2 linked regions of the Homo sapiens genome follow. The protein of the gene in region 1 purifies or fractionates together with the protein of each later gene. This does not show direct contact. Each region holds a gene or a part of one and is shown on either strand. Other genes may lie near its edges.

Region 1 (3,500 bases):
TTCAAACAAAACTGTGATTTTATGATGAGTCTTTGGGTTCCCCTGACCATTATGCTTTCTTACAGATTGACCTTAACTAGTTTGGTTTAATCTGCTTTCTTGTAGTTAAAATTTTGCCCCAAGGTACAAAATTGTTTAAGTTTTAATAATTTTTTTTCTCTTACAAAGGTGAATGCTATGACTCCAGTTAAAAAACAAGTTCTAGAAATATATTGACAGGGAGATTTGAAAGCAGCCCAATACGATAACTGGCTTTGTTTTACTGAAGCAAACTCCCTTTCTTCTCTTCACAGGGTTACATGAGTTCTTTTTCCTCCTAGTCCTAGTGTACTTTGTGATTGCTTGCATTTATGCTCAATCATTGTGGCAGGCTATTAAGAAAGGCGGACCCATGCACATGATTTTAAAGGTTCTGACAACTGCATTGCTGTTACAAGCTGGTTCAGCTTTAGCTAATTACATTCATTTCTCCAGGTAACTCAAAACCACTAAAACTGTGTTCATCATTACATCTAATTAATCCTAATTAGTCCACCAAAATTATGCTTGCTTTGATTATAAACAATTTTTTTCACATTTGTAATTTACACTACTCTTCTTCAATTCCTCAGTTACTCCAAAGATGGAATAGGGGTACCATTTATGGGAAGTTTGGCAGAATGTGAGTATCTTTCTGAGCATTTTTTAAAAAGCTTTTACACTCGCTATCTGCTTTTTTTTTATTTCTTGTCATAGTATAAATTTTCTGTCGAAAATTGTTTAGAAATCAGCTTGACTGAGAACAGGATTACAGTTTAAGTTCCCATATGTCTTACTTAGTTTCTTCTTAATAATAGGTAATGTGTACAGCTCCTCGTTGTTTTTTTGTTTGTTTGTTTGAGACAGGGTTCTTACTCCGTAGCCCAGGCTGGAGTGCAGTGGCACAGTCACGGCTCACTGCAGCCTCAAACTCCTAGGCTCAGGTGATCCTCCTGCCTCAGGCCTTCCCAGTAGCTGGGATTACAGGCACATACCATCATGCCTGGCTGATTTTTAAATTTCCTTTTCTGTAGATGGGGTCTCACTATGTTGCCCAGGCTGGCCTTATACTCTTGGGCTTGAGGGATCCACCCACCCTGGCCTCCCAAAGTCCTGGAATTACAGGCATGAGTCTCCACACTCTGCCTTTTCATTGTTTTTAGGTATATTTATATACATTCTCTCATCTTATCCTCAATAGAAAAGGGGTCTGCATATCCTTATTTTGCAGATAAAGGATCTGGGCTCAGTGATGTGAAACATACTTCCACATGTCAGTCAGCTATTGAGTGGTAGAGACTAGACTCAGACCTAAATTTTCTTACCTCAAAGCTGAAGTTTTTCTTCCTATTATAATTCCACTCTCTGTTATAACTGACTCTTTTCTATTTCTGACCCAAAGCCTAAAACTCACATCAAAATATGCTGTGAAGAAAAGTGATAAGTTTTCTTAAAAATCATTAAATGCTACCTCATAAAATAAATATATATATGAAACTTGAAGCATTTATAGATTTCTGTTGTTTTCTTGTAGTGTTAACCTGGATACAGGTGGTTTTGATACATCTTTTCTGTTTGAAGTAGCAGGCTTCCCCTGCAGTGTAGGTGATGGCCACCTGGTGGCACATCACACTAATGCATGGAGCTTCTCATTTGTCTTCAGGATTCTGAAAGTAAAGCCAATGTTTGGATGTTATGGGAGCTATGCATTTCATTGTATTGTTTCTTGTTAATAGTTTTAGAAAATACTCTTCACATTATAGTTCAGCCATCAAAAAAAATTCACCCAGAAATGAAGGTACTAGTATTCTCCATATTGCAGAAATCGTATTTAGAATTTGCTTTAATAAGCAGTGAGTTATAGAGAACAGGATTATGTAGTTAGAAAAGCTAAGAAAAATGGGAAACGAAAAGAGTTAAGGTTGGACTTAATGGACATATGGTATGGGCATATATATGTATTTTTAAATAGTATTGCTGCTGTTTTAACTATTTTAATAAATATATTACAAAATTTATGGCAATTTTTAAATCTTTAGAATTATTACCTGCGAATATCTCTTAATGAATTTCGTTAGCTTCTCTTTGAAAATGGCTTTTTGTGGTTTTTCTTAAAAAAAAAAAAAGATGTTCTCAATGCAAAAAGCACTAAATTTTTTATATTGTGAAAACTTGGTTGACGTTGGTTTTCATGTCCCATTAGTTTTTGACATCGCTTCCCAAATTCAGATGTTATACTTACTTTTGAGTCTATGCATGGGTTGGACAATAGTCAGAATGAAGAAGTCTCAAAGCAGACCTCTCCAGTGGGATTCTACGCCTGCATCCACTGGCATTGCAGTATTCATTGTCATGACACAGGTGGGTATTGATACTCAGTGTTTCTGCTTAGTAATCCTCAGAAATGCAAACTTGAGCATACCTCATTTCAGAATTGAAACCTGGGACCCATAAGGAATTTGTGTCATTTTTTTTTTCTTGAAATTTCTGAGCTTCTACAATTTGTGTCATTTAAAGTATGAATTTAAAGAGTGTTAGATCAAATAATCTTAATTATCTGGATGCTACTATATGTAGACTGCAGAATTTAATTATAATTTACCTGAATTTGAGCTCCTATCAGCTTATTTAAGCACAGTATGTTTAATACTAGGTTAGAGTCTTATTTCCTACTTAATAATAGCTTTCTTTCATATTTCTCTAGCACATGGTAAGTACTTAACACTGAATGAGTGATTCCATGAATTTGAGATTTATCCATTGTCAAGAATCTTTAGGATTGGCTGCTTTGTACGTAAAAGAATTCAGGTGATTATCTAAGATTAATTAAAGGGCAAAATATAGACTAAAAAAGAATGGGATCTTGTTTTTGAAAGCAAATGTAAAAACAAAACTAGTCTTTTATAAAGGTCCTGCATGCCTTTTTTTTTATTTTCCTCTATATTAATAGTATTGACATTCTAAGATACCCATATGCCTATGTTCAATGGATTTGTAAAAATTAAGAAGAAAGGTTATAAAGAAAAAAATTTGTACTGAGTTTTTGATGAGCATTAGCTATAGATGAAAATGAATTATATACTTAGGCTCTGTAGAGGACATTATAATGTAAGTTTAATGCATTAAATAAATTGAAAAATGTATTAATGAAGGATGGGGTCAGTGCTTTATTCATCTTTCTATCCCTAGTATTTAATATAGTAGGTTTTGAGTGGAATAGGAGTATTGAATTTACATGAATGATTTGAGAGAGACCATATCACAGGTGGTGATATTTAGAAAGGAGGTAGTGCCAGGAAAGGGGATGATGAGAAATAATTGAATTAGAAGAATTGATTAAAATAAGGTTGAGATTCTACCAACTTAATGTTTTTGAGCCAGGACTTATGGAGAGTAGTGTCAATGTCAGGTTAAATTCTCACTTTTTATTTCTTTTTAAAAATTTCATTTTTATTATTTCATTGTAATTTTAATTTATTGTC
Region 2 (3,273 bases), on another chromosome or scaffold:
GAGAATCAATGGGAACCACTGAAGAACAGCCCCTTCTATCTTAATGTCTCCTGAGAGTGTCAGGTTACCATGGCACCTGTTTTGATGCCCAAGACAGCAAGAAAAATGATGTAACCTAATGTACTACATTTAAGAAGAAATAAAGTATGTGGTATATTTTGGAAACATTTTTATACATCTTAGCTAAAATGTTTAAAAGGTTATTGCTTAAATAAGTCAGCTTCATTTATCTGAACATTTAAATTATGCAGAGAAGCTCATCTCCCAGCTTTGGCAAATAAGCAAGATGTTTCTGTGCTAGTTTTCAAGCATGAATCATCTTCATAGATCACATCAGCGCATTGATCACACCAAAAGAAGTGTCTGGGTAACCACTCCTTTGCTTTGATTTCTAGAGTCAAACGCTAACAGATTTGAAGGACATGAGAAAGCCTGAATACCATCCTCTCCAAACAGTGGGCCCCTCAATCTGAACCTTGAAGCTGAAATACGATTCCTACTTCATGTACAAAACACATTTTTTATTTTGCAAAGCCAAAGCCATGCTTTAAAAATACAGACTTTGAATCTTAAGACATTATTTTGCATTTTAAAGAGAGATATAGTTAAAGCTTACAAGAACAATATAAAGTTTCAAATAACACCATTGTCAGGTTTAAACATGTTGGTATGTTTACATGACAGTTCTTTCCTTTTTTTTTTTTTTTTTTTTTGAGATGGAGTCTCGCTTTGTCACCCAGGCTGGAGTGCAATGGCACGATCTCGGCTCACTGCAACCTCTGCCTCCTGGGTTCAAGCGATTCTCTTGCCTCAGCCTCCCAAGTAGCTGGGATTACAGGCACCCGCCACCACGCCTGGCAAATTTTTGTATTTTTAGTAGAGAGGGGTTTCGCCATGTTGGCCAGGCTGGTCTCAAACTCCTGACCTCAAGTGATCCACCCATCTTAGCTTCCCAAAATGCTGGGATTACAGGTGTGAGCCACCATGCCTAGCCCATGACAGTACCTTCCTAACATGTGTTTGTATTTTTGTAACACAAGTTGCTATTTTTCTAATGTTCATATATTTACATAGCCCTTTAAAAACATGAGTTCCATGAACTTTCTATGTCATTGAAGAGAGCTGTTAAAATCTGATTCCATCACAAATTTCAGACCCCTTTAAAATAATTATCAGAAGCCAGCATAATTCCAGCTGTCCCCTAGCTAATCTGCAGCTCCTCATAACAAAAGTCTTCAGCCACACATTGCTCTTCAACCACATTAAAGAAACGGAACAAAACTTCTTTCTACATTGTCTCAGTAAAGTTGCTTTCTTTAAAAAAAAAAAAAAAGTATTCCATTTATTTAAAAAATTAAAAACATCTAACATTTTAAACTGTACAATAAACCCCAACTTCATTACGATTCATTAATCAAATCTCTCTTGAGTCCATTTTGTTTGCTGGAACTCCGCTAGGCACTCAGAGCACAGCTGTGAGCAAGATTATTCTAGATCCTGTCTTCATAGCACTCTCAGCTTAATGGACGTTTAGACAAGAGACACTCACGACAGAGAACAGCTCCCAGGGAAATCAAAGCAAACCGACAGTTTCCTAATGGCCCACTACAACCTGAGCTGCTTTATCCAATTGGTGACAATTGTCACCAACACCTGTTCTGCCATTGTCCCCTTCTTCCCGAAGCACTTCCAGGTTGTGAACACTTGAGCTTGTCTTTCCACCTCCATTTTACAGGGTCAGGCTTGTTGACTGTATCAAAGGGAAATGAGAGGAAACACTAGCCGGCCAATCCTGCTGCTTATAACCAGCAACAATAAACATTCTGATAGATAAAAATGTTTAAACATTTGCCTAAAATGAGTGATGTGTTGGCTTCCATTTTTTTTTCTGTTTTAGTTTTTCAAACCACTGCCATCATTTTGTGCTGTAACCAAAAGACACTGTGATCTGTGACCGCTTCATGAATATTTCTGAAAATGTTTACATTTGTCAACAATTCACTTTAATTCAGCATTTCCCAAAGGCTGTTTTGTGAAATGCCAGGCGGATATATACCCTAGAGCTACAAAACATTCCTTGCAAAGTGCTGGAAAATGCTACCTATCAGAGACCACCCCACCCTGAAGAGATCACACAGCCCATGAGCACGTTAAGTCCCGCAGGAGAGAGGCTTGCTTGATTTTGCTTAATTCCCACATTTTCCATGCATACCTGGCCATAGACTTTTTTTTGCATAACATCTATGAGTATGTTTCACACATGCCTTAGGGAGACTCAGCTTTCTATCACATAGTGAAGGACGACGCATTGTCGTTATCTGCGGTCTCACTGGTCTGCCGAGAAATGTTTTCTGAGTACCTCCCGGCACAGGAGAAGCCTGAGGACTTGTACTTCCTTCTCACACACCACAGGTCCTTCAAGATCTTCAGAAAGTAGTTTCTGAACTTCTGCCCAATAAAAGCGTAGAGCACAGGGTTCAGGCAGCAGTGCAGGAAAGCCAGGACTTCTGTGACAGTTTTCGTATAGCCAATTAGCTTTTCGCTCTGGCAGGATCGGTTCATTTTACCCAAATTTGCAGCCGTCACAAGCAGGACCATGTTATGAGGAATCTGACAAGCCAGAAACACAAGCACCACAGCTATGATTACACGGATGGCTTTGTGCCTTTTAGAATTCTGAGCTTGCACCAAGGTTTTGACAATGAACGTGTAACAAAATATCATGAACATCAAAGGGATAAAGAAACCAAAGAGTAGCTCAAGCCCCAACATCAGCAGCTTCCACCTGATGGGCTCCGAGACAGTCTGGTACTTGGGTTCACAGACATCGCTGCCTTGGGTGTTGTATTTTTGGTTGAAGACAAAAGTTGAGCTGGAGATGATGACTGACAGCCCCCACACAACAAGGCAGATGATTTTGCTGCGCGGTAGTGTTCTGGATCGGAGCCGGAATGACTTAGTCGCCTGTACAATGGCGATGTACCGGTCCATGCTAATGCAAGTCAGGAGCAGCATCCCGCAGTTAAAGTTGATGGCATAGATGCCTTTTAGCAACTTGCACGTGGCATTGCTGAAAACCCACGCACCGGTGGCATGACTCACTGCCCAGAATGGGAGAGTAAGAACAAAGAGGATGTCTGCAATGGCCATGTTCAAGAGATAGACGTCTGTCATAGACCTGGCCTTCTTATAAAAAGCAAAGGTGATCACCACCAGAATATTCCCCAGGAGGCCAAAGACACAGATCAAGGAGTAGGCAATCGGTACAAATAG

Evidence for each region.
Region 2: the proteins of GPR180 (region 1) and CCR6 purify together in Homo sapiens (co-immunoprecipitation; one large-scale study listed by IntAct). This does not show direct contact.

Annotation. Positions count from the first base shown.
Region 1 is NC_000013.11:94,618,857-94,622,356, forward strand, and holds part of GPR180 (integral membrane protein GPR180 precursor), read left to right. Parts: intron 1-293; coding exon 294-474; intron 475-611; coding exon 612-661; intron 662-2,221; coding exon 2,222-2,379; intron 2,380-3,500.
Region 2 is NC_000006.12:167,136,369-167,139,641, reverse strand, and holds the end of CCR6 (C-C chemokine receptor type 6), read right to left. Parts: coding exon 2,287-3,273; 3' UTR 501-2,286; downstream 1-500. UniProt on the Homo sapiens protein: Receptor for the C-C type chemokine CCL20. Binds to CCL20 and subsequently transduces a signal by increasing the intracellular calcium ion levels.